Homo sapiens: one gene and its partners. The protein of the gene in region 2 interacts with the protein of the main gene of each other region in a pairwise test. Each region holds a gene or a part of one and is shown on either strand. Other genes may lie near its edges.

Evidence for each region.
Region 1: the proteins of PPP1CB (region 2) and CHCHD3 interact in binary tests that used the Homo sapiens proteins (3 or more experiments, as listed by UniProt).
Region 3: the proteins of PPP1CB (region 2) and PPP1R2B interact in binary tests that used the Homo sapiens proteins (3 or more experiments, as listed by UniProt).
Region 4: the proteins of PPP1CB (region 2) and PPP1R27 interact in binary tests that used the Homo sapiens proteins (3 or more experiments, as listed by UniProt).

Annotation. Positions count from the first base shown.
Region 1 is NC_000007.14:132,791,732-132,799,761, reverse strand, and holds part of CHCHD3 (MICOS complex subunit MIC19), read left to right. Parts: intron 1-3,184; coding exon 3,185-3,320; intron 3,321-8,030. UniProt on the Homo sapiens protein: Component of the MICOS complex, a large protein complex of the mitochondrial inner membrane that plays crucial roles in the maintenance of crista junctions, inner membrane architecture, and formation of contact sites to the outer membrane.
Region 2 is NC_000002.12:28,747,498-28,755,519, reverse strand, and holds the start of PPP1CB (serine/threonine-protein phosphatase PP1-beta catalytic subunit), read right to left. Parts: upstream 3,691-8,022; 5' UTR 3,396-3,690; coding exon 3,344-3,395; intron 1-3,343. UniProt on the Homo sapiens protein: Protein phosphatase that associates with over 200 regulatory proteins to form highly specific holoenzymes which dephosphorylate hundreds of biological targets.
Region 3 is NC_000005.10:156,845,111-156,853,536, reverse strand, and holds PPP1R2B (protein phosphatase inhibitor 2 family member B), read right to left. Parts: upstream 3,243-8,426; 5' UTR 2,975-3,242; coding exon 2,357-2,974; 3' UTR 1,009-2,356; downstream 1-1,008. UniProt on the Homo sapiens protein: Inhibitor of protein-phosphatase 1.
Region 4 is NC_000017.11:81,832,486-81,840,460, reverse strand, and holds PPP1R27 (protein phosphatase 1 regulatory subunit 27), read left to right. Parts: upstream 1-5,410; 5' UTR 5,411-5,507; coding exon 5,508-5,697; intron 5,698-5,807; coding exon 5,808-5,958; intron 5,959-6,608; coding exon 6,609-6,732; 3' UTR 6,733-6,969; downstream 6,970-7,975. UniProt on the Homo sapiens protein: Inhibits phosphatase activity of protein phosphatase 1 (PP1) complexes.

The DNA of each region.
Region 1 (8,030 bases), on a different chromosome or scaffold from region 2:
ACCACAAAACTGGATTTTTTTTCTTGTTTTTGTTACATGTATATTTTCAAAGGTTGACTCTATTCCACCGATTTCTTCTTGCTAAACATGTTTTTGAGTAACTATTAGATCTTCCCACTTCTTTATTAGTGTTTTAAGTTTTCCAAATCTATATTTCATCCTTCTCTTACCATTGTCATTCACCATTTCTTTGCCTCTTCCTTACATACAAAGAAATTAACTTGTCTAATCGTCCTTTGCTGCTAAGACTTAATTTTCCTTCCTAGGTATCTTGAAAGTCTGCCTTTCATTATTTTTGCCTAATAGGGGCTTTTTCCATCAGCAGGAATGAAAGCAGTCAATAAAAGTCAATTGCTGACTCTATGAATATATGGAGGGTTTACCATAATGCATATTGGAAATGTTTTGAAACCTTTATCCTGAATGGAAGGTGCCATGGCTTGTGTTTTATGGCCTTCTAATGTTAGACAGCAATCTCATTTAGCATTTTCCCAAAGTGAAAACAGTGCATTAGGGCAGTATAACAAGCTTTACAGATCAATACAGAGGCAAACCTTTACCCTTACAGATTAATCCAAGAAAATGTCCCAGAGTCTACTCCTGGAGCTGGAGGACAATTATGCTGATTTCCATTCCTCTTCCCCTCTTTCTACCATCAAATCATTAATACAGATTGAAGTGTGTACAAAAAGAATTTCAGAGGATGACTGCACACACACACACACACACACACACACACACACACACACACACAGAACAGATCACCAAACAGGAAATCAAGAGCCCTGGAAGTGAGTAGTATTGATTTGTGGTGATAAAAGTATATTTTGACACATTTCAAATCATAAATAACGCATGGACTTTAACTTGCATGACTAATAGCTCAACCCAGGATACATGCTTATCTACAACTTAAACTACCTCTTTCTAAGGAGTCCATAACATGAGGTGAATTATCCCATCGTGAGTAGACTTTTTAAAGGAAAAAATAAACTGTCTTCTTTATGACATGCAGTGTGTGGATGCTCATTTTTACAGTCTTTTCCCGTATGTTAATGAGGAAGGGCTGCATATCTGGTCAGGGTTGTTCTAGCCTTCCCTCCTCACCTCCTTCCCCCTGCTTTTAAATCTGAGACACATTGGAGACACGATCAGTTGTCAACACTAGGATAGAATGTAACCTTGCTTTCCTATGAGCTATTAGTCATTAGTCATGTATTTGCTAGGTTCAGCTGATCTGATGCTTAATCATATTTTATTCGATATTTATCTAGATGCAGGTCTTGCTATAATTAGTCACTTAGTGGTATCTGTGCCTATACTCTTTGAAGCACGGCTGATTCCTTTTAAATCCTGATGTTCGTGGTAAAGGATTAGGGAAATCTGTGTCCAGAAAAATTCACAGACATCTGAAGTTTGAAATCTTAAAGCATGGAAACTCCTGGGATTCTATTTAATTCTGTTCTTAGGTATTTGACAAAGCAGTAAGGTAATGAATGAAAAAGTAAAAGTGATGTTATAGAAAAATTGTTGAAACATTTTTTTTTCTCTGTATGTCTGTGTTCTTTAGAGGATAGTAGGAAGTCAGGGAACCACCAACATGCTTTGCATTTCTATTCTAGTAAAATATATATTAGCTTAGTGTACTGGATAAAAATAATGAGACAAATCATCACCCAGGCGTTTCCTTATTGATGAGAAATATTCCCCCTGTGTTCTCTAGGGGTTTTGTTTGAACCCATTAAATTTAAAATAATGTGATTTCAAGATTACTATGGAAATAACAAATTTAAATTTCAAAAATAGAAGTGATAAGACTGGAAGCTTCTTGTATTAAGACTAATTTGAAAAAACACGAATTTCAAGATTAAAAGTAGTAATATTGTGCTTTTTTTCTCTGTATGTATTTAATCCTTGCAGTCCAAACTTCCCTGCCGTATTAATCAGAATATTTTACCTTCATTCGTATAACTCATTTGGTTCATTATCATTTTTCAAGCATATATTATAAGGTTTTTGGAAACATTTACATTTGGTCTCACATATTCACAGAAGCAATCTGACTAAAATCTGAGATTTGTAAGTATAAGTAGCAAAATTTTAACCCAGGGGACTTTAAAATGTTTTCTTTGCACCGATTTGTATTCATTCAGTAAATGTATTACATGACTTCTGTAGGGTTCCGATGTCTAATAGCTGAGGTAACAAAGAAAATAAGTCACAGTCCTTGGAATTTACATTCTAGTAAATGTAGGTTGCTAAATTGTATTAGACTATGGTGTAGTCAGTGTCACATGCATGGCAAGAAAAGTGAATACGGGACCAATGGGGTCACCATAAAGGGAATGATAGACTGTACCAGGGTTGGGGGGTGGAGAGCTAATGAAAGCTGACACTTGAGTGAAGTATCAAAGGATGAGTAGGTTTTTTCCAGATATAGAGGCATAGGTGGGAGTTTGGGCGTAGAGCATTTCCAGAAGCAAGAGCAGCATGAGCTTAGACTTGAAGAGAAGTGTAAGAACGAAACCCTGAATTGGGTTTGTCCAGGCTTCAGCTGTGTGCAGGGTTGGGGGGTGAAGGCCACAGAGTAGGCAGGAACCTGGTCAAGAAGGACCAGCCAGCTGGCCTTGTATTTTGTGTAGAAAGTGCTGGGAAAAGAGACCATCTTCGATTTCCTATGGGAAAGAACCCTCTGGAAGGTGTGTGCAGGCAGGAGTAGAGGGTGTCAAAGCTGAGAGACCAGCTGGGAGGTTGTTTCTTGAATTCAGGATGTGGCTCACTTGGAAGCAATGTAACGACAGTGAGTGTGGAGCAGGAGGACCAGGCCGTAGGGATCTCCAACTTTGTGACCAAGTGGATATGGGAATGGAAGAGAGAACTTAGGGCTTCCAAGTTTCTGGCATGTTGATATGGTTTCGGTTTGGAAGGGATGGTTATATTGTCCAGACTAACTCACAGTAGTGTCAATTAGTGGAACTAATTTCTTAGAATTTATTTACCCTTTGTCATTTTTATCATGGGAAAAATTTAGCTATCTTTGAAGTTTAAGGAAAATTCTTTCTCTTAAACCTTTTTCTACATTTGCAACATCTGTGTCTTACTGTGCGTTTTATGTGTTCTTTAACCTTGATTTTTATTCTGAATGAAGACCATTGGTCTCAGCGGTCCCTGTGTTTGTTTTCAGGCGATATGAGTCTCATCCAGTCTGTGCTGATCTGCAGGCCAAAATTCTTCAGTGTTACCGTGAGAACACCCACCAGACCCTCAAATGCTCCGCTCTGGCCACCCAGTATATGCACTGTGTCAATCATGCCAAACAGGTAGGTGTGCCAGCCAGGCCACTGGGGGCACTGGGCAAATTGAAAACTGGATGACCTGGGGCAGTGGTAAGGACTAAATGGGCCACTGTGTGTGAAAAAGCTTTCTAAGCCCTAGTCATCATCATCAAGAATTACTGTAATGAGTTGATTAGGGCATAACTTGTGTCCGATCATTGTCAAAGAGCCCATATCTTCCTTATGTACAACTCATTTACTTGCAGAAAAAAGGATTCTACTACAATTATACTTTTTTCCACTTGCCCTGAACTTTTGTCTTCTAATAATAATGTTCCCAAGGTCATTCCTCATACTTTTAGGCCAATATTTAGAGCTAGCGAAGAGGATACAGATTAAGAGCTGGCACCTTTGGGCCCATAAGCCGTAGGTAGGCAGAGGGCCAGGTTAAAAAAAAAACAAAACACCACCGTTCAGTCACTGTCCAACGCTTCCACCAGTTGATAGAGTTCACTTAGTTGGACAGGGAAAGGGAAACCAGAGATAGCATTTTAAAAAGAATTTCCACTGCTTTTATAGACCATAGCCATATTCTTCTCTTGACCCTTCATATCAGAACAATATGATGTTCACAGGACGTGCATTTTCTCTAATTTATGTACTTTAGAAAGCTAATGATAAACCCTGAAGCAAATTATCAATTCTGGCAGGTCACATAATTGCCTATCATTTAACCAATTTAACAGTTGGATATGGTTGTTCTGAGAGGCAGAAATTGTTGGAAACGTTGATTCCTTCTGCTGACAAACTCCATAGATTTGACCTTCTAACCCAACTAAATCTAGTGTTTAAGTTACACAGCATGCCTTTCTGCAGTCTAATTTGATGTAGTTATAATAATATCACTTGGTGTAAAATTTTTATACTCTACAAATATCCGACGGGAGGGTTAGTATTATCTGGATAGCTGGAAAATAAAGTAACATTAGTGGAAAGAATATAATCAAGATTTATTAAAAGCCTATGTTGTCCTCAAAAGCCTAGTGGCTGGCAGCTTTTTTCTGTTTCTTGCTTGTAGCTGCACTTGTATAACTCTTAGTAGTATGCCAGGGATCCTTTTCATTAAAGGTCTTTGGTACAGGTAATGTTGCTAATGTTAAGTTAGTACGTTTTATTTGTCGAAAACAGCTTCTGATATGCTGTTAATAAACCCCAGCCTTCAATATGAATATGAACTGAAGGACTTGAGACTCGTAGGTTGATTCATGGATTTTTCTAACTTGATAATAGTGCCTTATTGAGCTGGTGGTCAGTGGAAAAGAGTGGTTGTGACAAAGTGTATGTTTCAATGCTGGTCTCTAACATACGTGCCTGTTTGTACCATGTGATTTGTAACATTACCACAGTGGCAGCTGCAGGGGCATTGGGAGTGCTGACCCCATCCTGCCTGTCTGGGTTGTGTTGAATTATCTACATATAGTCTTGTGACATCAATGGTATATATTTATAGGATAAAGCAAAGTTAACTTGTGACAAAAGCAAATACGCCACATGGCGCGATAGTGAGTTTGAATCTGGCAGACCTGGGTTTGTACCCTGTCCTTTTACCAGCTCTGTGACCTTGGGGCTTGAGTTTTCTCATCTGTAAATTGGGGTAATGTTGTGAGGATTACCTTTATATAAAGTATTCAGTAAATCTTATTTTTCCCCTTCTTTCCTCAGTTGCATTATTGTGCTGAAATTTACTAAACAGGTCAGCCAAAAGCATCAAATTATTATTAATGATTTCAAAAGAGACCCTCTTTTTTCCCCCTCACTCTCCAATCTTTTATGTTCAGCTAGTATGTTTGGAGTATCTATTGTTTTCGTGGCTCTTATATTCAGTTATTAGGAGGTGTATAATACAAGTTAATAATAAAAAGATAGAAGCCCTCAAACCTTTTTTCCTGAGATGGGCAACATTGAAATGGACGAGAACCAAGAACCTGCACCACCTTACATTTCGGCAGTAGTTAGGATTGCAAGGTCATTTCACATCCATTCTTTTACTTGTTTTTTTATGACAACCTGAGATGTAAATAGAGATGGTTTTATTTTCACCATTTTCCAGTTGAGAGCATTGAAACTCAGGGAAGTCACAATAGTGAATTTAACAGCTAGACCAAGATGTACCTTGCCATAAAAACAAAAAATTTCAAAATACATAAGTGGCATTTGGTTTTTGAGTGGGTAAGTTTGTGAAGGGGCATCCATCCATCATCCACTAATGCAGAAATAAGGCAGTAAGGGAAAGTGAGAGCGAAAGCGATAAAGGGAGGACACAGAATGTGGAAGATCTAATGAGCGGGGGACAGAGTCTGAAGGTCACACATGGGGAGTGGGTTGATGAAGCCCGTGATGAAAGGGGCAACTTGGCACTGGCCCATTTTAAGATCACGCCACAGTGGCCAGAAGGAGCTTCTATCAGTGTTTCATGAGCAGTTACTTTCCTTCCAATACCAGGTTGTCCTTTTGCTCCTTGTGAATTTAGGCTAACCTCATGACCCCAGCTGTGCCCCTGTTAAGAGACTCCGGCAAGATACGTAGTCCCGACTGCCTATTTTAGCAGTTCCTCATGGGCCAACTTCTTACATTTTCTTCTTATGTTTCCTGTTAAATCCAGAGAACAAGCTGGACATGCTAAACATGGAAAATACTATACATGACAACAAGCCATTAGGCAGTGTTGTCCATATCCGACACAGTGCAAGGGTTTCCCCCATGGAATAATTCCAATGGCTAAGTCCACTCCACTTTTAAATAACTCATAAGATTGGCCTTTCACGGGTTCCCTGGGGCATTGTTCTAGAGACTAATAGGTTTTACTGTTAGGAAAATTTCCGGATATTCCTTAGCCTTACTCTTCCTCTCTGCTTATTTATCCACTTATTCATATCAGTGTTTCTTCAGCTGTTCTTCAACAATTTCTCATGGGTTGACATGAGACATTTAGGCTATTATTTCTTGTGTATTAACTTATGTGCTCTTCATGAGGGTAAAGAGATATTAAATAGCTCTAATTATTATTTCTAAGACTTAAAAGCTACCAGCTGGCTGGCTGTATGAGATACAGCATTTACAAAGGAAGGAGCACATCGATTGATACATAGTCCTGTGTCTTTTGTTTCTCATATCTGCTTAGCCTCATAACTTTCTCAAGCTCAGCAAGATTGGATTACCTCTTCTTACCTTTGATACCTGGTTCCCATTCTATCTTGCTACACCTACCTAAGGTAGGAGAGGTGCTGCTTGTACCAAATAGGTCATGTCTCTTCCTCTGAGCGTGCCTATGAACAGGCATGCTTATGCACACCACCTACCTTACAGGAGAAATGGAAAGGAGCGGGAATGAGAAGCCAATAGTATTTGCTCATGGGTAGACCAAAATGTGCCCAAGTTCTGTTTTTTAAAAAAGGGGAAGGGTGTCGAAAGGGTTTGCTGTCAGATCTGCATTACGTCTGGGACCATTCCCTGGGACATACCACCTCTCTACTATTTACTTGTAGAATTGGGCTGCATTGGGAGTTGCTAGTCTAAGCATTTCAGCTTTTTCCCAGCCCTGCTGCTATTGACAGAAAAATGCAGAAGCTGGCTGGACCCTTCTGGCACATTTTGTGTTCACTGGGAGGGTGGGGTTTATAGGAAATACTGCTGCTGCAATCCTAATCTAATTATAGTGACTTGAGCTTCAGTTGCTTTGATAAACTGAAGGTTTGAACCAGGTGATCCATGAGGGCCATCTAGCTCTGTTATTCTAGGACTGATTCTGCTTTGAAGTATATAGAGCAAAAGATGGTGTGCATAAGCATGCCTGTTCATAGGCGCACTCAGATGAAGAGACATGGCCTATTTGGTACAAGCAGCACCTCTCCTTTTGAGACCTCCAGTATTTGTGCCTTCGCCTCTTAAATTTTGCTGTCCACCTTAAACGTTCACTCAAGAAGAACACTTGCATTTCTGATTGGTCTGCTGCTGCCTGGCCTCCCACTGCTACGTACCCTTTCTTTGAGGTTCACACTCCTGACAGCCCTGGGGAAGCCAAGGTGGCAGAAAGAACTGGGAGGGAATAGAAACAGTTTCACAGTTTCTCCAAAGTCAGTGAAGTGAAAAACAGCTGTCTCTGCACTGGCTGGCAGAATGTACCCTGCCGGCTAATAAAGGCCATTAGAAAATGCAGGCTCCCTCCAGCCAGCCGTAAGCCTCCCCTGGATCGTGATGCCTTTCATCCTGTGAAGTACCATGGGAAGTGTGACTCTGAAAACAGAGCAGGAAGCCAGGAACCTGGAGCCTGACAACCAAGGGCAAACTGGGACCAGAGGCAAGGACCAACCCCAGGAGATGCCCAAGGGACAGAGGTCAGTGTGGGACCTGCAGTTAGATGATGAGTCTGTCAGGGGTCCCCCAAACCATAGCAGAAGTTTCAGTCAGTAAGCAGGCAGTGGGACAGTAGCCACGCAAACAGTTAGTTCAGCTCACAATAAGGACGTCTTGTAAATGAGACAGCCCCACCTCAGACCTACATGCTTCCTGCTGATCTCTTTGGAGAGATCAGAAAGGAACCTGGCCACAGTGAGGAACTTGGGGTCAGGACCCAGTAAATGAGGCTAGATCCTAATGTGACAGCTCTCCAACTTAAGGCTAGTGCACCCCGTTGTCTCGTTTCTAAAATATCATTGACATCTCCAGTATTTGGTTGGCTTCCTAAGTCAAAGCCTC
Region 2 (8,022 bases):
GGTCACTACAGGGGATAAAGTAGAAGTCTTTGGTTTTTAGTTCTAAGCAAAAGTTAATCCAAGAAAACATACCGAAAGAATATGCACCGTCCAAATAATAAAATCAATATTTCTGTTTTACATTAAATGGCATGTTTGTATTAAAATGACCTAAAGGACTCTTTGAAAATATCATATCAAGGTCAGGCGCGGTGGCACATGCCTGTAATCCCAGCACTTTGGGAGGCCGAGGCGGGTGGATCACTTGAGGATGGAAAGTTCGAGACCAGCCAGGCCAACATGGTGAAACTACTAAAAATACAAAATTAGCCGGGGCGTGGTGGCATGCTGTAGTCCCAGCTACTTGGGAAGCTGAGGCAGAATAATCGCTTGGACCTGCAGGGGCAGAGGTTGCAGTGAGCCAACATCACCCCACCGCACTCCAGCCTGGGTGACAAGCGCAAAACTCCGTCTCAAAAAAACAAAAAACAAAAAAAACTTATCAATAATACGCCCACCTAAAAAAGAAAAACAAAAAGCAACTCATAAAATGTAGTCACCAGAAGTGTGTATAGCTGATCTGCGATTTAATACAGTAAAAAAGAAAAAACAATCAGGAATATGTTGTGGGGCTACAATCAGCATTTTAAAATGAGATCAGGTCCTGCTGAATGTTTTCCCCTAATGCAGAGAAATTCTTGCCAAATTTTTACTTACACGTTCATTTGACACTAAAAACACTAACCATAGTTATTCTTGCTAGGCAGCTTTACAAAATATCACTAACTAGCATCTAATATCACTGAAAATCCAGGTGGACAAAATTTTCTTTGAAGATTAAAAATAATTATTTACTAGAAAATTCAAGTCTGCTCTGGACAAGTCTTTCAACAGGTCTGGATCTGGGAAGGAGCTGAAAAACCTAGAATATTTAAGAATCCCTTGGGGGCACTGTCAAACTAAATATGCTTCTGTAGGATGAAGAAGTACTGATAGAATGTGTGCTGAACATAGGACAGAGAGGAGGCTGAAAAAGCCTGAAAGACACTTGTTTAGACTGGGAGCTCCTTGAGTGAAGAGACTGTGTCTTATCTTAGGATTGCTGGTGCCTGGCAAGGAGGAGGTCAACTTGTTAACGCTTGCTAAATTAAGAGAGAAACGTATCTGGACTACAATTCTTACCCGCCCCCCCCCCGCCCCCCCAAAAAAGGAAAACAGATTGTACAAACCAAATATTTAATTTGAATTCACAAAAACAAATGGAATCACTTATTTTTCCCCCAGTGTCTTTTCTAGTAACCTTGCACAACCCACTCGTGAAGTTTAAGTACCTGTAATCATATAAAGGTGCGTCTAATTTAAAAGGATACAAACATTTTAAAACATAAATCTGTTTTATGCCTACAAAATATATGGAAAATGAAATAAAATATAAATAAATTGAGATACAAACATATTTTTAAAATATTTAAATTTACAAGCAAAGTTTAAAATATATAAAAATATGCCGGGCGCGATGGCTCACGCCTGTAATCCCAGCCCTTTGGGAGGCTGAAGCGGGTGGATCACGAGGTCAGGAGTTCAAGACCAGCCAGGCCAAGATGGTGAAACCTCCGTCTCTACAAAAATACAAAAAAAATTAGCCGGGCATGATGGCGGGGTGCCTGTAATCCCAGCTACTCAGGAGGCTGAGGCGGAAGAATCGCTCGAACCCGGGAGGCGGAGGTTGCAGTGAGCTGAGACCGTGCCATTGCACTCCAGCCTGGGCGACAGAGTGAGACTCCGTCTCAAAAAATAAAAATAAAAAAAAAATAAAAAGGAGTAGGCCTCTACTTCCCAAATGTAAACAAGACATACACATTTTTAAATTAACTGTATTTCCCTCATAAAACAGTTACAAAATACAATTATTTTCAAAGCAAATTTCTCAAAGACCCAGCAAGATGTTCACATCTGAAACAAAGTCTTAGGTAGTGAACACTGACTGCAGGCACCAGGGGGCCTCCCAGGAATAACTTGATAGTAAAGGAAAAGGTAAATAAGAGTTCCTGGTAAAACTTTTGCTTCCTATTCAGTCTTAAGACTGCTGGATGGCTTTCACATCTGGAGCAAATACACAGTATTTAGTTACAGAACAGGTACTCACAGAACTTGGGTTTGAGATACCGACACATACTTTGAGAAAAAGGAATTACCCCTCCCCCATTACAATATTCTTTGATGATTTTCCAAATATAAGTACATACTGCTTCACTCTAGCAATTATCTTAAGGTAATTTGAAAGCAAACAGTACATATGCAATCGCTGGACGGCGGCTAACAAAGAGGCCTCTAAATTGTTTAAAAAGGATTAAAGGCTTTTCTACACACTCACAAAACAATTATTGATGACGAAAACTTTAGGGTAGAGGGACTGTTTGGCAGAAGACTGCATTTAACTTTGAATAATATCCTGCAATGAATCAATACATTTAACTCCCGGCTAGTCCACCTCTTCGTTTTCCCCCCTTGCCTTCCCACCAACATAAAACTATTCAATAAGAACACTTGAGCCCGGAAAGTTCAAATGCTGCGTAGACCTACAAATACCTTTCGAATACAAGACAGGCTTTAAAAATAGATTTTCACTAAGTTTGTGCAGAAATTAAGCTCTGCTCAAATCAAATGCAAAAGCCAATCCCTTCAGCAAACCCATCTACATACATCACATTTCTTAGGTGCATCTTCAACCTGATCAAATATCTTGTCTTACAATTTTTTTAGGCCAAGTAACAAACGGTAGATTAATTCCCGCTAATTTTATCCTCTCTTTAAGAAGAATCCATTCTATATAGCATTGTGTAAAAATGCAGAGCAGACGAAGCAGTCCTGTTAAGGACAGGTTTATATATATATACGTAAAATTCACTCCCGGAACGACAATCGGAGGCAGCCAAGGGCAATGCACAAAGAGAACAGAGAAGAACAGTGATTCCACGGACGCACAAAGCCCAGTGGCAGGCATCCTCTCCCCATCCTCGGGTCACCGGAGGCGAGCACCACGGCGCGCGGAGCCCGGCGGCCTTTCCGAAAGGCTGTCTCCCGCAGACCCGCTCCGCACAGCCTTCGGCCGGCGGGCCTGGCCCCCGAGGGTCCGCGGGAACGGCCCCCTCTCCCCCGATCTCCCCTGACCGCGCTCCCAGAGGCCGCTCCCCCGCGCCCAGAGCCTCCTCGCCCCCTCCTCGGTTCGTCCGCCGCGCCGCGCTCCCAGAGACTCGTCTCGGGGCGGGAAAGGGGTCCCCTCGCGTTCCGGCGGCAGACGGGGACGCAGGGGTCGGCGGCGGTGCCCGACCTCCCTCTGTCCCGCGGCCAGGCGCGCACTCACCCTCCAGCAGCCGGGTGATGAGGCTGTCCACGTTCAGCTCCCCGTCCGCCATCTTGTCGGCACAGACTCTCCTTCCCAGCAGCGGGAACAAGGGCTTCTCGGCGGCGGAGGCTGCGGCGACGGCTCGGCGTTCTCTCACCTACAAGTCACGCGGCGTTTCGACCCCGGCTCCAACTCCCCCTTTTCCCGGGCCCTCCCCCCACCCCCTCCCCGCCGGGTAGCGAGAGCGCGCGCACACTCGGAGGCACCCACGGAAAATAAATAAATAAACAAGAGAGGCCCCCTCGAACAGGGCCGCGTCAGACCCAGGCCGCCACCTCCTCCTCCTCGGCACCGCCCAGCTCCGCAAAGCTCACCAGCGCCGCCGACGGCCCCACCCGCAGCGCCACTCACTCCGCACGTCCCTTGCGCGCCGCCGCGTCACGCAGCTCTCCGCGCAGGCGCGCGGTGCGCTCCCCGCCGAGGCTCCCCTCGACGCCTGGGCCGCCGCGCAACCGCACTGGAGCGGCTTCTCCCGCTGCCGTCTTCGCGCAGGTGCGTCGCCCTCTCTCCACGTCCACGGCGCCGAGTCTCGCCACGGTGGCGCAGGCGCCAGGGAGGTTCCCCGGCTTTGCCGCGCGGAGGAAGTCCCGGTTACGCAGAGCGCGCTGGGGCAGGGCTGACCTTCCCCTTTCTCTACTTCACTGGCCTCCTCCAGACGTGGTGGTTGCGCCCTTTCGGCCTCGCTTTCCGTTTTTTGGCTTCATCCCCTAGATCTGCAAACAGTTCCTCGTGTTTCTTCCGTTAGCCGGGAAACGCGAACTGCAGCGTTTGGGACCCGGGTTTGCGCGTGTGGAAAGCAAAAGGGGTTACTCTGCTGGAGTTCGACATTGCAAATAAAGGTCTTTATCCCCGGCGGTTCTACAAAATTAGTTCTGCAGGGATTCTGGTTGAAAGAAGCGTTAAAGTGGGCCTTGTAGGAGTCAGCAATAATCCAATTTTACATGGGTGCAGGTGGCTGCCTGTGTCTAGCGCTTTCACACATCTCATATCTTCATCCACGCCGTGGGTATTTTTTTTCCACGGTGTGTTTCTGTTGCTGCCTCCAGTATATTGCTTAATCATCCTACCTGGTAATTATTTATGCATTTTTCTCCTACTCTCGACTCAGCTCCTAGGGAATAAAAACACATTAACTTATCTTTGTGCCCACAGCACCCACCAAGTATTTCCATCACGTAATACTGCCTCTAGAAAGGCAGGAGGAGAAGCAGTCACGCTAAGGATCTAGGCAAGCCAGATCTTTTGTCCGGTTTTAGGAGGTGGCCAGCCCTTACTTATTCCACAAGTGTTTTTCCAGAAACTCAGACTTGATATTGCCTCAAGTCCAAGGCAGTGTGCTTCCCCCACTCACATATCACTAATAGTAGCTAACATTTGTTCAGATCCCTGTATGTACTCTGCCACTGTTTTAAATGTTACACCCGGGTTACCTCATTTAATCCTTACAACTGCCCTGTGAGGTAGGTACTATTATTATCTCTACTTTGTAGATGGGATTCACCGAGGCACAGACGGTTAAAAAACCTAGCCCAAATAACACAAATAAACAGCAGAGCATGCAGTGCTAGAGTCTGCATTCTTAACAATTGCTATATTCTCCCTCTCCGTGAATGTGGGCTGAGATGCTGAAACAGGCATGTGCTGTGGGGGAGAAAAAGCTTTGTCCAACCAAGTGCTTTCTAATGTCCAGATGACATAGAGCTAGGATTTCCTAATGTCTTTTTTCCCCTATTTTTCTCTCCATTTCAGGGTTGAGTTTGTGCATCGATTGTGAACACAACAGGCAGCAGGCTATAATGGTGGTCCTGGCTGGAGTAGTTTTCACAGACTTCAGTAATCTGTGGAGATGAACGGGCAGTTCTCTGTAGTTTTCACAGATCACTGCCAGTTCGTTTTGAGGCCTTCAGGAGTGAAGACCTGGCTCATCATCACTCTTTGTTGTTTTGTTAAATTTATTTACACCCTACTTTATTCCAGAGGAAAGGATTTAACGTAGTTTACATAAATGTGTACATCAGGGTAAATTAAAAATAAGTACAGAGAAAAATAGGACAAAAGAAAACCGTGAGTGTGAAAGATAAGATTAAGCCAGCAGTTTTGTATGCAAAATGCATGGTGTAAGGTCCTATTGGTTTGCTGGAGGTAGGCCACACATATGACTCTCAGTTTTCTAGCAACCAAGAAAAAGATCAGTTGCAATCGGAGTAGGTGTTTTGGCTAAGCTGGAACTAGGACTTGAATATAGCAGCTTGTAGAGTTATACCACTTGCCCAAATCTCTTCCATGAGCCTCTTTAAGTGTAACAGAATGCCTGGGAGCACGTAAATGCTCCTACTTAGATGCCTACTTAGCCTCTAATTTTCATGGGGCCCATGAATCCCATGAAAAAGAACTTTGAACCCTGTCCACAATTAGAGTTCAGGTATACGCAGACATGTTTAAAGACAAGGGACACCCAAAGGAAAGATTGCACAGAGAGAAAGTGAGCATCCGAGAGAAAATCACCACAAGTGAGGCAGAGGGAGGCCGGTCTCAGCAGAGTTTTGGAGGTCGTGAGAAGAAGAGGTAGGAGATAGGAGAGTGGTTCCGAGTACTTGCCTGCTGATGTTACCTTCTCCACCCCCACCAGGTTTTCCAGTGCCTGGAGTCTTGGGCAGGAATGGGCCACTGTAAGAAAGAGCTTTATCACTAGGGCCTCAGCCAACTTTTCTGTGGGATATCCCTCCAAAATAATTAAGAGTTCAGAATGCTTCAGATTTTGAAGTGAAACTGGTACATATATTAAGTGTTACTTAATAACCCGATAGTTTCTAGGGCAGCTCACCATAATCCCAAGTATTAGCCACCACCCTCACCCCCTTCAGAGTAAAATGTGTTTCCTGAAGGAAGTTGGGAAAATGAAGAAAAAAAATACAAAAATCACCTATAATCTTACCAGTCATAGATGGCAGTTTTCCTGTCTTATTTCTGAATAATGGTTGTTAAACATTTGCCAGCACACCATAAGGCTTAGGGAGGCATCTGGGTCATGCATGTTAATATCCTTGGGTAATTCCAGAAATCTCTATGAAGGGAAACTCCTGTTATTTATCTAGACTTCCTGATTGCAAGGGGTTTGGGCATCATGATTTAGGGGTCTTAATAAAATTATTATTTTATTTTTACTAATAGATAATGTCTGTGCCTATCAGATAAAGGCAAACCAGTGCTCAGAGGAACCCAACCATCTCTGAATTGAGACCAGAGAGCTGTCTCTATGGATAGTCCTTAGAGAAGGCATTTCGGAACACAGTAAACAGCAGCCTGGTGACTCCGGTTAGTAAACGCAGCAAAGACTTTCATAGGGATGTTTTTCTTATATGCCTGTCAGTATTAGCCAGTAGCCAATCTGGTGTGAAAGTGAGTAAGTTTAGGTAGCAAAATGTGGAGGGGGTGATATATAGTTTTTTGCTGCTCTGGCTTAATCCAAGATGACTTTTAAATGAATGAATCAACATTCATTGGGCTGTCCTTCCATAAATATGATTCTTCTCAATCAAGTGTTTAATAAGTCTTAAGTAGTGGTAAGTTGAAATTTTACTAGTTGTATCTGGAGGTCAGCCATTCTTTATATCGCATGCATTAAGCTTTTATAGTCAGCTCAATTCAAGAAAATTGGAAAACCAGACAAGGACATATATGCATCATTAGGAGGCCACCTCTCTCAATACAGAGCCAGGCCTAGGTGGTACAGCCAGGCAGGGCCAAGATTTGTTCTTAAGATTTAGTTTTGGTTTCATTTCATTATACATATGAGAATAGCCAAAATTATAGCTAAGCCATAAGGCATGTCCTCAGCCAGTTTAGTCCCCCAGAATTATAAGGCAAATATAAATAAATGCCTCCTTCCCTGCCCTTGGTCAGTAACCTCCCCGGTGGCCCCAACCAACTCTCTCTTCTCTCTCTCTCAGTTTGTCTTAAGCTAACTCCATAGTACATCCGTATCTTTCAAGATAAAGTGATTGAAAAATAAATGTCTAGTAATTGAAGGAGTTAACTGGCTATTTAGAACTGTTAACTATAAGGCAATTAAAGCTAGGTGAACAGCTACCACAAGTAATGACTATTTAATTGTTGAAGAGTTTATCTGTGGCCTTTTTTTCTTGTAATTAGATTACAGGGCCAGTTGCCTTTGTTACAATAAAAGCAAGTCATCTACACAGGTAAGAATGTTTCTCTTTTATTGCTCCCCCCTCCCCCCATCCTGCTCACTGAAATGGATACCAGGAAATAACTGTTTGATGAGGGAAAGTATACAATATGTGAATATTTGTTTCAAATGAAACAGTGTACTGTAAATGTTTTGTTTCTTGTTGCTCTGTTTCTCCTGTAGTATATCCAAATCACATATAATTCACCTTTTCAGTTGGAGGTTTACCGCTAAATGGCTTAATTTTTTTTCTTTTTTTGAGACAGAGCCTCACTCAGGCTGGAATACAGTGGCTCATTCACAGCTAACTGCAGCTTTGACATCTCAGGCTCAAGCAATCCTTCTGCCTCAGCCTCCGTAGTAGCTGAGACCATAGGCATGTGCCACCATGCCCGGCTATTTTTTTTTATTTTTAGTAGAGACAGGGTCTCGCTGTGTCAGGCTGGTC
Region 3 (8,426 bases), on a different chromosome or scaffold from region 2:
TTCAACTGAAAGTTACCCTTAATAATCCATTTATACCATTATGTCAAATTTTAGTCATCTCTTCAGAATTTTAGACCAATGAAAACGGACAAGGTAACACCAGAGAGTTAAGCACAGAAAGTGATACTGATTAAAAAGTTGAAAGTAAAATCTACCTTGGCTAGAACTGAACATTCAGATCTGTCTCTCCAGAGGAAAATCTAACTTGAATCATAATGGTTCATATTTTGACTAGTTCATACCCTATCAATTAGCGACTTATGACTTGAACATACCTTTTCTCAGCTGCATGTGACAGCCTAAAACCCCACTGAGCATGCTGCTTGGCATGCCTTACTCCTCTGAAATCATCTACTTTCTAAAAACCAGAAAATGAGTTTGCTTGTGATTTAAATTTCAAAAAATAGTTTGTAGAAAACACAAAAAGAATCAACTGTTTAAAGTCTTATCCTTTTCTTCACTCTACAACAGCTACTTCTACAAAAAAGAGTATGTGGACACTTTCTAAGAACTCAGAAACAAGAAAACCAAAATCAGAGGTTGCATGAATATATGTGCACACATATGTACAGACTTAATCTCTACATCCCCCAAGACAGATTTAAACAGGTAATCCCAAAATTCTAAATTCAGAAACCAGAGATAAACAGTTTTGTTTCTAAATCAGTGGTATTACTAGATGAAATGTTTAGAATACTGCACTTATAGTTCAGCAGTACTTTGATTATATATCTCATTTAAAAAAATCAAAATAATAACCACATTCTTCTAACAGCAAAGAATTCTCCCACTTTTTATTTATTTTGAAATACTGATATTTCTATAAACCTGCAAGTGGAAGATAAGCTGTTCAATAAAAGCCTTATTTTATATATATAAATATATATTATACAGACATTATTTTAGAAGTCTGTTCATATAACAGATTATTTTGGTACTAACGAAAATTGTATACGATTCATCAATTGTATGGCTAGAAATGAAACCATAACCAAACCAAGACACACAGGGCTTTCCTGCACTTCGTTTAAGGAAAATATTCCACATAATTCTTACTGCGTTAGAGGAATAAAGTACATTTGTCATAGTATACATTATCATATTCCCTTAAAGCAGGGACTATTTAAAGTTTTTAAATTAAAAAATGTCCAGGCTTACTTCTGTCTGTACATTCAGGAATAATCATATCACTGGTTACATACAATTCTCATGCAAAGAAAACCCTCAAAAAACAAAAAAAAACCCTCGGTTGTTTTCTTAAGTCTAATTAAGCCAAACTAATAATAGCAATTTAATTAGCAATCTGTAAATCGAGAGGCATAGAAATTCAGCAGTTAAACTGTATTTCCTGCCTATAGTACTGCTGCTACTCAATCTATTTTCTTCATGTATTAGAAGAATTCATAGGCATTGATGGTCAAAATAAGAATTTCCACACAGCAGCAAATGACAGAAGAGTGACAGAAAGAGTTCCTAATGTCGTGACAATCTTAATGATCCTTTAAAAGGTAAAAGATTGTGTGTGTATGTGTGGAAAGGAGTAGGAAATAAAAGCAGGAGGTTAAGACAGGTATTTAAAGGGAATGGCGAGATAGCTACATTAGAATATTTATTTTTTAAAAAACTGCTCTGAAGTCTGCCCAGTGTACCAAAAACATTAAAAAACAAAAACAAACAAACCCCCTGCCAAAAAACAGAGCAGACATTGGTGAAAGTTTAACCTGATAATTTATTTGTGGGGAAAAAAGCTAGTTTTGATGAGAAAAAGTTCAGTCCTTTCCTTGTAAACACAAAGAAACTCAACAGGAATTTTAAAGGTAGTAGGTCAGAAAATGCAACAGTAACTCTTACAATTCTTTTCAATTAAACAGACAAATCAAGTTGAAGAGAAGTGTTAAAATACGATTCAGCTTGAATATTTATAAGTCTATATATCCTGTTGTTCAACTGGCTTTTGATTTTTAAAAAAACAAATCAACAAACTTTGTAAGAGCTACCACATTTCGAGTGATGAAAATAAATTAGTTCCCCCCCAAAGATATTGCTTAACTTCTAAAGCATAAAAAGCTCTATAATATCTTATACAAATTAACCAGTGTTCTTATGAAAGTAATGCAGTTTTGGACTGATGATATTACACTGTATTTGTGGTAAAGTACTAGGCATAAGAATATATATATCAATTAGGCATTTTCAGTCTAATTAGTCTCTAAGTTTATCATTTAATTCTTGGCAATATATAATAACTGGTATGCATTTTGGTACTTAAGTCATGAATTGTGGAGAACAAGAAGCAATGTATTATAGTCACAGGGTTTATATCTAACAAACAATTGCAGTGTTGAACAAATCTCTTCTATGAACTTCGTAATTTGTTTTGCTGTTGGTCACTTGGAGTAGATCCTTGATTTGATTCTTCCGTATTCATGCTTTCTCCATCTGCAGTCTCTAACATTTCTTCATCTTCATCATCATCATGTAGGTCTTTTGAAATTAATTGTCTGGCTAGTTTGATATTGAGTCCTTCATTGTAGTGAAGCTTCCTTCTCATTTCAAATTGTCGCTTTTTTTCTCGTTCTTCAGGTGAGAGGTCACTATCCTCCTCTCCACTGCTTTCTTGTTCCTGAATCCGGTACTTTGGCTCCAAGCCTTCAGCAGCAGCTAATTTCTTGGCTAGGATGTCTGGCGCCATGGCTTCAGTGGTCTCGGTGTCCCTACACGCATCTTCATCATCACCCATCATACTATGGTAAGGAGGGCTTGGTTCATCTATTTTCATTAAACCATAGCCTTTGTCTGCTGGATGATAGGTCGCCAAGATGTTAATTTCATCCCACTTCTGGGATTTTTTGCTCAGCTCCTCGTCGACACTCCTGCGGGGCTGTTCGGCCGACGCCACCATAGAGGAAGTCGTAGAGGTCTTGTTCTTCAAGATCCCCTTGATGGGCCGGTGGGAGGCCGTCGAGGCCGCCATTGCCGGGCGCTCCGGCTGTCGCCTCAGGGTCGCTGCTTGGCGTGGGGTCCGCGAAGAGAAGGGTCGGCACAGCAGAGACTCGCAGGCAGCCGCAGAGCCCGCTCAGGGCTAAAGCGGCCGCACCTGCTGCCTCGGAAACGGCTACTGGAGCGGTTGTCACAACGACCCCGACGCCAGAGCCAACGCCGAATGGGTGGCGGCTCCTCGCGCACCATTAGCCGCCGGCACTTGACCCGCGGCTCGCGGAGAGATGCCGGCCTAGAGCTCCGCGGGGAGTGGTGGGTGGGGGGTGGTGGGTGTGGTGGGGGTGGGGGGGGTGGAGCAAATCCGACGCCCTTTTTCATAGTTCTTTTGTACTGTGGACACCATGAGGCTTACAAAAAAAAACATCTTTATAGATGTAACAAGTTGTAAAGAGATGAAAACTTACAGAGCACGAAAACACAATAGAAACAAACTTTATCCCCCCACCACATTTTGACTTTATATTGTCTCAATTAATATATTTTTATATTGCCTAACTCTTGACGATTACTGTAGCTATTAAAGTTTTTGATTTGTCTTTTAGGCTTTATACTAGAGTTATAAGTGGGTTTCACACCACCTTTACAAGTATTAGGGCATTCTGGATTTTTCTGTGTACTTACAGTGGGTTTTATACCTCAAATGTTTTCTTTTTGCATGGTGGTGGCGGTGGTGATGGTGGTTTTTCTTATCGAAGAATTCCCGATGTGGCACGGTGGCTCATACCTGTAATCCCAGCACTTTGGGAGGCTGAGGTGGTCAGATCACTTGAGGTCAAGAGTTTGAGACCAGCCTGGCCAACATGGTGAAACCTCGTCTCTATTAAAATACAAAAATTAGCTAGGCATGGTGGTGCGTGTCTGTAATCTCAGCTACTTGGGAGGCTGAGGCAGGAGAATTACTTGAACCTGGAAGGTGGAGGTTGCAGTGAGCTGAGATCATGCCATTGCACTCCAACCTGGGTGACAGACTGAGTCTCTGTCTCAAAAGAAAAAAAAAAAAGAATTCCGTTTAGCATTTTTTATAGGATGGGTTTGGTGTTGAATTCTCTCTGCTTTTGTTCGTCTGAGAAAGACTTTATCCCTCCTGTTTGAATGATAGCTTTGCTGGATACAGTAGTCTTTGATGGCAGTTACTTTCTTTCAGCACTTTCAAAATGTCATCCTACTCCCTTCTGGCCTGTGTGGTTTCTGTTGAGAAGTTTGTTGCCAGATGAATTGGAGCTTCTTTATATGTCATTTGCTGCTTTTCTCTTGTTGCTTTTAGGAGTATCTCTTTGTCCTTGACTTGAGAATTTGATTATTATATCCTTTAAAGTACTCTTATTTGGGTTGAATCTGTTTGGTGTTCTCTGACCTTCCTGTACCTAGGTATTTTTCTTTCTCATGTTTTGGAGAGTTTTCTCTTATTATTTCTTTGAATAAGTTTTCTACCCCTTGTTTTTGCTCAGTTCCCACTTGAACATCCATAATTCTTGATTTTTGTCTTTTTAGGCAATTTTTCTCTATATTTTTGTTCCTTTCATTCTTTTTTCCTTTTTCTCTTGACTCCATATTTTTGTTATTGTTGTTGTTGTGTTTTGTTTTGTTTTTGGTGGAGACAGAGTCTCACTCTGTAACCCAGGGTGGAGTGTACTGGTGCAATCTTGGCTCACCACAACCTCCGCCTCCTGGGTTCAAGAGATTCCTGTGGCTTAGCCTCCTGAGTAACTGGGACTATAGGCATGCATCACCACACCTGGCTAATTTTTTGTATTTTTAGTAGAGATTGGGTTTTGCCATGTTGCCCAGGCTGGCCTCGAACTCCTGACCTCAGGCAATCCACCCACCTCAGCCTCCCAAAGGTGATGCTGTATTTTGTTTTTCTTTTCCTTTTCTTTTATTTATTTATTTATTTATTTATTTATTTATTTATTTTTGAGACAGGTTCTCACTCTGTTACCCAGGCTGGAGTACAGTGGAGTGATCTGGACTTATTGCTACCTCTTCCTCCCAGGCTCAAGTGATCCTCCCAGCTCAGCCTCCTGAGTGGCTGGGACTACAGGCACCAGCCACACATGTATAATGTGTGTGTGTGTGTGTGTGTGTGTGTGTGTGTGTGTGTGTGTGTGTGTGTGTATGTGTGTGTTTGTAAAGATAGAGTTTTGCCATGTTGCCCAGGTTGGTCTCAAGCTCCTGGACTCAAGTGATCCACCAGCTTCAGCCTCCCAAAGTGCAGGGATTACGGGCATGAGCCACTGTGCCTGGCCCTAACTCTGTATTTTCAAATAACCTGTCCTTGAGCTCACCGATTCTTTGCTCTGCTTGATCCTTTCTGCTGTTGAGAACTTCTAATAAATTGTTCAGCTCAGCAAATGTATTTTTCAGTTATGAGATTTCTGTCTAATTTTTCTTTAAATTTCAATCTCTTTGTTAAATTTCTCTGATAAATTTCTAAGTTGCTTTTATGTGTTATCTTGGAGATACTGAGTTTCCTTTAAATTGTCATTTTGAATTCTTGGTCAGAGATTCCGTATCACCATCCTATTAGGCTCAGTCACAGGTTCCTTGCTTTGTTCATTTAGGGAGGTAATAGTTCCCTATTTGCTGTTGTTTATTGTGGATATACATCTGTATTTTTGCATTAAGTGATTATTTCTCTCTTCTTTCTCTGGCTTGTTTTGATTATTATTGGATATGTTTGCTTAGAGGTTCTTTGAATTTACCTGCTGAATTTCTTTATTTCCCCCACTGGTTGCTGCTTTCTCTTTAACACTAGATTGTGCTTTGAGCCTAGGTTTTCCTTGGCTCCAGTTAATGATCAGAGCACTGCCCATCCCAAATGGGGAGGTGCCAAAAGGGATATCCCAGCTGTGTGGGAAGGCTGGCTAGTGGTTCATGCCCAGGGGACCTGTGGACTATTCCTCCTACAATGTACTGCTGCTGAATAGCTACCCTGATTTGGCATCTCTTTTGGCTGAATTTCAGATGGAGTTTCTAGGGCTGGGGGTAATAGTCCCACTCTCCTCCTTTATCTATGGCTGTCCTCAGGTATATTTTTCCTTTCAGGCATTCATGATGCTTCCCATGCGTTGAAGCAGAGAAAGGTCTCCTGTCAGGAAACTTAAGGTGGTAGGGGAAGCTGGTGGTTCACCTCAATGTCACTTTTTTTACTGTAGAAACCATCAGTCAGGGGGATATTTTCTATGCATTTTGCTGTGGACAGATGGGAGTGTGGGATGTTGAAGATATAAAAGTCCAATTCTCAGACCATCTTCTTGTTTTTTTTTTTTTTTTCCACCTCTTTGTGGCCCTAGGAGCTGTCTCATCTTCATATTTGAGTTTTTGAATATCATCAGTGATATTTCGTGAGAGTGATTTAGTTTCACTCTTAGGCTTGTCCTGCCTGTTTTGCTGTGAGAATCTTGGGTTTAGTTAAGTGTCTTGTATAGATTGTAGTCTGATGAACATATGCTATGCTTGGTGTGAGATACACTGGTCACAGGATCAGCAGTGATGTGAAAATACAATAGAAGTTCAACCCTGCCCTATGCCCAATATAAAAACTCTGCTATGGCACCCAGGGAAATCTGAACTTACACGTAGGACTATGTAATCTAGAGTTTTACTGTTGGACTTCACAATGCAAGTGATTTATTTCTACTTGCTCTCCTGTGTGCAACTGTTGCCCATAATTTGTTGAGCAAATTGAGGTAAGCTTACAAGGAAGAAACATTATTGCTTATTGAGAGCTTATACTAAGGCTGTTTTAAATGCTTGCTTATATCAGGGGTGTACAATATTTTTCTGTAAAGAGCCAGATAGTCAATATTTTAGAATTTGCATGACATACATTCTCTGTTGTAACTACTTAACTCTAATTGTAACAGGAAAGCAGCCATAAACAATATTTAAACAAATGATGTAATTGTGCTCCAGTAAAACTTTGTTCAAAAAAACAGGCAGCAGGCTACTCGGACTGTGGGCTGTAGTTTTCCAACACCTGGCATGTACTCCCTTACCTAATTTTCACAACAACCTAACAATACTGTCTCTTGAGTGAAAAGGTAGCAAAAAAAGGTATAATTTCCTTTCTTCCTTCCTTCCTTCCTTCCTTCCTTCTTTCCTTCTTTCCTTCCTGCCTTCCTTCCTTCCATCCTTCCGGTTTTGCTCTGTCACCCAAGCTGCAGTGCAATGGCCATTCATAGCTCACTGTAACTTCAGAATCCTGTGCTCAAGCAATCCTCCCACCTCTATATCTGCCTCCTGAGTATCTGGGACTATAGGCATGCACCACCATACTTGGCTAATTTTTGTATTTTCTGTAGAGATGGGGTCTCACTGTGTTGCCAGGGCTGCTCTCAAACTCCTGGCCTCAAGTTATCCTCCTGCCTTAGCCACTCAAAGTCTTGGGATTACAAGCATGAGCCACTGTGCCTGGCCAGGTATAATTTCATAGCTGTCATATATTTGAAAAATATAATAAAAACAATGCTAGCCAGGGACAGTGGCTCACACCTGTAATTCCAGTACTTTGGGAGGCGGGCAGATCACTTGAGGCCAGGAATTCAAGACCAGCCTTGACAACGTGGTGAGACCCCCGTCTCTACCAAAAATACAAAAATTATCTAGGTGTGGCAGCTCATGCCTGTAATCCCAGCTAATCAGGAGGCTGAGGTATGAGAATCACTTGAACCCAGGAGGTGGAGGTTGCAGTGAGCAGCGATCATGCCACTGCACTCCAGCCTGGGTGACAGAGTGAGACCCTATCTCAAAAAAACAAAATAACAACGCTATGCTTTTATCATACATAATCTAATTAAATGCTTAAATAACCCTGCAAGGTAGGGGACATTATCTTCCCTTTTCCAATGAGACAATTAAAGCTTCAGGTGTTTGCTTAATGTCATACAGCTAATAAACAGTGGGCTCTAAATTAGAATTTGGGTCAAATTCATCTAGGCCTGTGTCGTCTTCATGAACATCGAGGGAGAGGCAATAGAGCATACTGATTTTTAAAAAGACCAAACCTTTATAGAGTTCGGTTTCTCACCTACCAGAGGTAATGACCAGATCTAGGTGTACACATAAGAGTGAGTGGCTGAGAGTCTTAGTCAGCTTGGGCTTCCACAACAAAATGCCATTGATTGGGTAGATTAAACAATGGCAATTTATTTGCTCACAGTTTTGGAGGATACAAGTCCAAGATCAAGGTGCCAGAATCGTCAGTTTATGGTGGGTGCCCTTTGCCTGCCTTCTCGCTGTGTCTTTGCATGGCATAGAGAAGGCAAGCTTTCTAGAGTCTCTTTTTGTAAGAGTACTAATTCCATCAAAAAGGCCTACCCTTATGACTTCATCTAAACCTAATTATCTCTCTAAGACCCATCTCCAAATACTAACACTTTGGGGTTAGGGCTTCAACATATGAATTGTTTTTGAAGGGAAGCCTG
Region 4 (7,975 bases), on a different chromosome or scaffold from region 2:
AGGCTGGTCTCGAACTCCTGATCTCGGGTGATCCACCCACCTTGGCCTCCCAGAGTACTGGGATTACAGGCGTGAGCCACTGCGCCTGGCCTCAGCTGACTTTACTAACAGGGTCTCCCGGGTGCTTTTGCAGAGCACTGCTGGTTGCATTCACTGGACATTTTTTTTTTTTTGAGACAGGGTCTTGCTCTGTTGCCCAGGCTGGGGTGCAGTGGTGTGACTGTAGCTCACTGCAGCCTCAAACTCCTGGGCTCAAGCAATCTTTTGCACCTCAGCATTCTAAGTAGCTGGGACCATAGGCACCCAGTACCATGCCTGGCTAATTTTTAAATTTTTTGAAGGGAAGGGGGTCTCCCTATGTTGCCCAGGCTGGTCTTCAACTCCTGGCTTCAAGTGATCCTTCTACCTTGGCCTCCCAAAGTGCTGGGATTACAGGCGTGAGCTTCTGAGCCCAGCCAGGCCTCACTGGACTTCTAAAAGTTGGACGGTAGGCCGGGCGCGGTGGCTCACGCCTGTAATCCCAGCACTCTGGGAGGCCGACGCGGGCGGATCACGGGGTCAGGAGATAGAGACCATCCTGGCTAACACAGTGAAACCCCGTCTCTACTAAAAATACAAAAAATTAGCTGGACGTGGTGGCGGGCGCCTGTAGTCCCAGCTACCCCGGAGGCTGAGGCGGGAGAATGGCGTGAACCCGGGAGGCGAAGCTTGCCGTGAGCCCAGATCGCACCACTGCAGTCCAGCCTGGGCGACGGAGCGAGACTCCGTCTCAAAAAAAAATAAAAAAAGTGTGATGGTAAACCTTGTGCATCAGATGTTCTAGTTCGTCCTCCAGAAGGCAGAAACTTAGAGTCATGCAAACTAGGTCAATTTGCAAGTTCATATGGACCAAGAAGAATCAGGGACAAAACTCCATGAAGACAGGTTTGGCTCTGACGTCACGCTGCATGAACAGCACGCTTCGCCCACGGTGGAGCAGGCACGACTGCTGACGGCCGGCTTCTGATGGAACGTTTCAAGGGTGAGGAGCTCCAGGGAGTGTCTATCATGGCGTAGAACACACGGTTCCCACATCCTTATTAGAATAGAAGGCACATAAATACCTTTCAAGGAAATCTGTTGTGACTGGCGAGGCTTCAGGCACCAGTCCCTCGGGTGATCCAGATAGAAACCCCAAAGCCAAAAGCTCTGCACGCTCCCAGCTCACCTCCAGCAGGAGGGACACAGGGGCTTGCTTGGGGTCGCCAAACAGGCTCACCGGGTGGTCTTGCCCCCACCGCGTCTCTAGCCTGAGGCCCGGTCACTCCTGGAAAGGGCGTTCCTTCTCGTCACACTGTTGGTGGCAGCTTCATCCAGCGTGCTTTCATCTGATCCTCTGAGGGGGGAGGGCAGACAGAACTTTCCACAACATGAGAAAAGGCAATCTTCACATCAGAGGAGAGCCTGTCTCCAGTGTACAACGTTTCGTCTCCAGGCTTCACGTAAACAAGCCAGAAAAAACGGCCTGGCTCCTCCCAAGTGACCTGGAATTCCAACTGTCCATACCTTTCCCTGAGTCCCTAGAAATGCAGCCACGCTGGGAGCCGACCCCCCTCAGGGTGTCTGCAGGCCCGGGCCTGGCTAGAGGCTCCAGGGCCACTCCAGTGTGTGACTGGAGAGGTGGTGTACCCGAGGCGAGGGGCCCAGGGGGCAGGGGAGGGGACAGGGGGTGCACCTGGGTACCAACGCAGGTCCAGGAAATTTCGCCAGGCAGGGACCCTCCGTCAGCGCCGCTTCTCCAGCAGCATTTTTCCTTTTACTCTTTTTATTTTATTTTTTAAATTTTTTATTATTATTATTTTTAAGATGGAGTCTTGCTCTGTCGCCCAGGCTGGAGTGCAGTCGCGCGATCTTGGCTCACTGCAACCTCCGCCTCCCGGGTTCAAGAGATTCTACTGCCTCAGCCTCCTGAGTAGCTGGGATTACAGGCGCACGCCGCCACATCCGGCTAATTTTTGTATTTTTAGCAGAGACGGGGGGTTTCTCCATGTTGTCCAGACTGATCTCGAACTCCTGGCCTCACGTGATCCACCCTCCTCGGCCTCCCAAAGTGCTGGGATTACAGGTGTGAGCCACTGCACCCGGCCAGTTTTAAATTTTTTTAAAGCAAAGGAGTCTCACTATGTTGCCCAGGCTGCTTAAACCCCTCGCTTCAACTGACCCTCCAGCCTTGGCTTCCCAAAGTGCTGGGATTACAGGCATGAGCCACTGTGCCCAGCCCTCCCATAGCATTTGGCCAAGGCTTTGCACCTAGAGGTGTCTAATATGTTTGCTGATTTGATTTCGTTGGATGCAGATCAGCCTAATGATGCGAGGCTGTTGGTGGCCCAGCTCTCCTCTGCCCCTGCAAAGAGCTGCTGGCCAGTCTTGGTTCTGTCCTCATTCAGGCCTTTAGTGACCACCTGCAGGGTTTTACCAGCATTATGGGTTGACTCATGTGTCTCCTTAATTAACGTTGAAGTCCTAGCCCTCAAGACCTCAGAATGTGACCGTTGTTTGGAAACAGGATGCTTGCAGATGTCACTGGTTAAGATGAGGCAATACCCAACTATAACTGGTGTCCTTATACAAGGGGGTGATGTGAACAGTGACAAAGGCTGGGAGAACACCATGGAGATGAAGGCCGAGATCGTGGCGATGCTGCTAGGGCCAAGGACACCAGGATTGCTGGCGGCACCAGAAGCTGGGGAGAGGCTTGCGACAGACGCTCCTCAGAGCCTCAGGAGGAACCTGCCCTGCTGAAACCCGGATCCCAGATTTCAGCCTCCAGAGCTCTGGGACGGACCGTCTTTTTTTTTTTTTTTTTTTTGAGACGGAGTCTTGCTCCATCCCCAGGCTGTAGTGCAGTGGTGTGATGTCAGTTCACTGCAACCTCCACCTCCTGGGTTCAAGCAATTCTCCTGCCTCAGCCTCCCGAGTAGCTGGGACTAGAGGCGCCTGCCACCACACCCAGCTAATTTTTGTATTTTTTTTTCCCGAGACAGAGTCTCGCTCTGTCGCCCAGGCTGGAGTGCAGTGGCGCGATCTTGGCTCACTGCAAGCTCTGCCTCCCAGGTTCACGCCATTCTCCTGCCTCAGCCTCCCAAGTAGCTGGGACTATAGGCGCCTGCCACCATGCCCAGAAAATTTTTTGTATTTTTTAGTAGAGATGGGGTTTCACCGTGTTAGCCAGATGGTCTCGATCTCCTGACCTCGTGATCCACCTGCCTTGGCCTCCCAAAGTGTTGGGATTACAGGCGTAAGCCAACGCGCTTGGCCTTTTTTTTTGAGATGGAGTCTTGCTCTGTCACCCAGGCTGGAGTGCAGTGGCACGATCTCGGCTCACTGCAAGCTCCACCTCCCGGGTTCACGCCATTCTCCTGCTTCAGCCTCCTGAGTAGCTGGGACTACAGGCGCCCGCCACCACGCCCGGCTAATTTTTTTTTTTTTTTTTTGTATTTTTAGTAGAGACGGGGTTTCACTGTGTTAGCCAGGATGGTCTCAATCTCCTGACCTCGTGATCCACCCGCCTCGGCTTCTCAAAGTGCTGGGATTACAGGCATGAGCCACCGTGCCCGGCCTAATTTTTGTATTTTTTAGTAGAGAAGGGGTTTCACCTTGTTGGTCAGGCTGGTCTCGAACACCTGACCTCAGGTGATCCACCTGCCTCGGCCTCCCAAAGTGCTGGGATTACAGGGTTGAGCCACCACGCCTGGCCAACCATCTGTTTTTTAAGCCACTCAGTCTGTGGTCTGTGAAGACAGCCCCGGCAGACTCATCCATCCAGCTTCAAGTGCTGCAGTGCTCCTAGCACAATCGATCGCTGTCCCTGACAACAAAGACCTCCCTGGTCAACTCTGTGTCTGTGTCCCATCCCATCCACTTGCTCATGTCCTGTAGTCCAAGCCCTACTTTGGACCTCCACTGGGGCTGTTGCAAAAGTAAAGGCAGCCAGCAATGAAGAGCCTGTTGGAACACGAGTTTTAAAAATTCCCTTGGCTGGGCGCAGTGGCTCACGTCTGTAATCCCAGCACTTTGGGAGGCCGAGGCGGGCGGATCACAAGGCCAGGAGTTTGAGACCAGCCTGGCCAATATGGTGAAACCCCGTCTCTACTAAAAATACAAAAATTAGCCAGACGTGGTGGTGCATGCCCCTGTAGTCCCAGCTACTCGAGAAGGTGAGGCAAAATAATTACTTGAACCCGGGACGCAGAGGTTGCAGTGAACCGAGGTTGCGCCAATGTAGTCCAGCTTGGGCGACAGAGTGAGACTCTGACTCAAACAAACAAACAAAAAAATTCCCTTGGCTGTGCTTCTAGAGGTAAGATCACAGGGGCCGGGGCAGAGAGAGCACACCACCCAGGGTGTGATGGTCCCTGAACGTGGAGAGCAAACTGGACACCACCTTAAGTGTGAGTATGTGTGTCAAACCTGGAATGCAGAGACACTATGCAGGGTGAACCCATGAGTGTGTAGGGAATACCCTGTCCCCTGCAGGTGTGTGAGGCAGGGGAGCCAGGCACGTGGAGGAAAAGTCGCAGGACTGACTGAGCAGGAGCCTGAGGCACTGAGATCCCAGCCAAGGATGCCTGCGGGGTTTCTGAGCAGGAAGCAGCACCATCAGAGTCATTTTTTTTTTTTTTTTTTTTTTTTTTGAGACAGAGTCTTGCTCTGTCGCCCAGGCTGGAGTGCAGTGGCACGATCTCGGCTCACTGCAACCTCCGCCTCCCGGGTTCACGCCATTCTCCTGCCCCAGCCTCCCAAGTAGCTGGGACTATAGGCGCCCGCCATCACGCCCGGCTAATTTTTTGTATATTTAGTAGAGACGGGGTTTCACCGTGTTAGCCAGGATGGTCTCGATCTCCTGACCTCATGATCCGCCTGCCTAGGCCATCAGAGTAGTTTTGGGAAAACCACTGAGAGTGAGGCAAGCCACGCTGGAAGGTGAAAACTGACAGGTAGGGAGATGGAGGGGCTAAGGCCTGTTTCACCACAGCACGGTGGACCTGTGCTTCTGCAGATGTGGAGGGGGTGGCCGCCCCTCACTTTCCAGGAGGTAGAGAGCAAAAGCCCTTCCAATGACCTTGGTACCTACTGTGCCCTTGATCTCGCGTTCCTAGCTATCTCATGGGTTCTGCACCGGTGCCTCCTCCTGCCCTCGGTAAGGCACCTTCTAGGTCCAGCTGTGGGGCAGGGAGCGACAGGCAGGAATGATCTGACCCCTTTGGCCGGGCACGGTGACAGATGGGCTGAAAGATGAGTCACTAAACATGATCTGGGGTGCGGGGCGGGGGTGCAGCTCAGTTTCAGCCCCTCGCGCCGGGGAGGATGACCGTGCAGCTTTATATAGCCCCTGAGCCCTATATAAGCAAGTCAGAGGCCGGGGCTCGTCCGACAGGAGCCCTCAAGCTGATCTGGTCGGGACCGGATACATTATTAACCCCAGTGCAGTAGGGTCCCCAGGGGCAACCTGCCCCACAGCGCCCAAGATGCCTAGCAGAACTGCCCGCTATGCCCGCTACAGCCCACGGCAGCGGCGGCGGCGGATGCTGGCTGATCGCAGCGTGCGTTTCCCTAATGATGTCCTGTTCTTGGACCACATCCGGCAGGGTGACCTGGAGCAGGTGGGGCGCTTCATCCGGACTCGGAAAGTCTCCCTGGCCACCATCCACCCCTCAGGTGAGCAAAGCCTGGAAGAGCTGGCCAGGGCCTGTGGGGTGGTGGGAGAGGCCAGCAAGGAGGACCTGACCTGGGGCTCAGTCTTGACCCCTCCCGTCCTCCCTGCCCAGGCCTGGCCGCCTTGCATGAAGCCGTGCTCTCTGGAAACCTGGAATGCGTGAAGCTGCTGGTCAAATACGGGGCTGACATTCACCAGCGAGATGAGGCGGGCTGGACACCCCTGCACATTGCCTGCAGCGATGGGTACCCTGACATAGCCAGGTGAGGGGGCCCTGGGTCTACACAGGCTTGAACCCGACCCCTCCGGGCCTCAGTGGGTCCCCAGGATGGGAGCCCCAAAATGTAGCCCGGGTGGTGTCGGCAAGAACCCTAGAGGCTGGGGGCGGTGGCTCACGCCTGCGCCTGTAATCCCAGCACTTTGGGAGGCCGAGGTGGGCGGATCACCTGAGGTCAGGAGTTCGTGACAAGAACCCTCTCACTACTAAAAATACAAAATTAGCCACGCGTGGTGGCGCGCGCCTGTAATCCCAGCTACTCAAGGCTGAGGCAGGAGAATCACTTGAACCCGGGAAGTGGAGGTTGCCGTGAGTCGAGATCATGCCATTGCACTCCAGCCTGGGTGATAAGAGCGAAATTCTGTCTCAAAAAACAAAAAAAACAAAAAAAGAACCCTGCAAACCCTAGAGGCTTCTGGAATCCTGTTTCTGCCTTTGTCCTCAATAGAACCAACTTGAAAAGCTGGCCACAGCTTCCAAAGGGTCAGGTTTCTTCCTCCTCACCCTACCCGGACCTTAGGACCCCAAGGTGGGGGACACACAGGTGACCCCAGGACTCTGGCCCTCTGACCCGGGTTGGGGCGAGCACTCTCCTGGCTCCTCCCCGCTTCAGCCAGAGCGACCTTTACACCCCAGGTACCTTATCTCCCTGGGAGCGGACAGGGATGCAACCAACGACGATGGCGACCTGCCCTCCGACCTCATCGACCCGGACTACAAGGAGCTGGTGGAGCTCTTCAAAGGGACCACGATGGACTGAGCCAGCTTTGCCCGCCCGCCCCCGCGCCCAGGGCCGCCTCCCTGGAGAAGCCGCGCGTCGCCCATGGGCCAGCACGTGCCCCACCCGTGGGCCAGGGGCGGCCGGACCCGTCCCTCCACGACCCCGCCACCCCTCCTAGGCCTGGCTTTGTCCCCAGGTGAATTTTTTACTGTGACACTTTTTACTTTTTCAATAAACGTGACTCCCAGGTGAGGGGGCCTGGGTCTACACACGTGGTCCCTGTGGTGGTGTCCTGATTACTGGGCTCTGGCCGCTCCCAGTGGCCGGCGGCGCTCACCGTTCGGGCCAGGGAGGTCCGGAGCTTCCGCCACGAGCCCCAACCCCGCACGGGAATCCCGGCCGCCCCCGCCCTCCGCCAGCCGGGCGGTCACGTGAGAGCGCGCTGCGCCTGCGCCTGTGCAGCCCGCGGTGGCGTCACTTCCGGCGGGGCCTCCCAGCTGGAAGAGGCGGTGGCGGCGGGTCGGGGCGAGGTGAGGCGGGTGCGGCGCCGGGCGGCGGGGACGGGGCGGGGCGGGGCGGGCGCGGCTGGGCCCCGCCCTGGTGTCGCCGCGCGGCCGCGGGTGCCCTGCAGGGCCGGGCGGGGCCGGGCGCGGGGGAGTGGCCGGGCAGCCGGGGTCCGAGGGAGGGGCCCGCGTTCCCCGCCCGGCACCTGCAGGAGGGCGCGGCCCGCGGGGCGCCTGGGAGCGCGCGTGGGGAGGGCGCGGCTCGGACTGAGCGCCTTTCCCGCCCAGGCAGGGGCAGGTGCCGGGGACCCAGCGCCGCCGGACGCTCGCAGCGGGCCAGCCTTCTGCCGCCGTCGGGGCTTTGGGGCTGACAGAGCCCCGCTTTCCCGGTCTCCTGGAGGGACCGTGCCTGAGGATGCCTCCGATTCTCGGAGCGCCGCGGGCCCGGCCGTCCGCATTCTTTTTCTGTCCATTTTTCGGCCTTGCCCTCTTTCCCGTCTCCCCGGGCGGTGATGCTGGGCCTAACGGGGAGAACGGGGCCTCCGCCTGCCTTCTAGGCACTCACTGGGCGGTGGTTGTGACCGCGGGGGCGGGAGCCATACGGGGCACGGGCTGTGCTTCTCTCCCTCCTGCCCCTGGGTAGCCGTCGCAGGAAGGTGGTCTTTCAGCTGGATCCCCAAGGATGAGTAGGATAGTTTTGGGCAGAGAAGACAGCTTGACCAAAGGCCCTGAGGTGTAAACAGGGACCAGTGAGTGGACTTTGGGTGGGATGTGGCGAG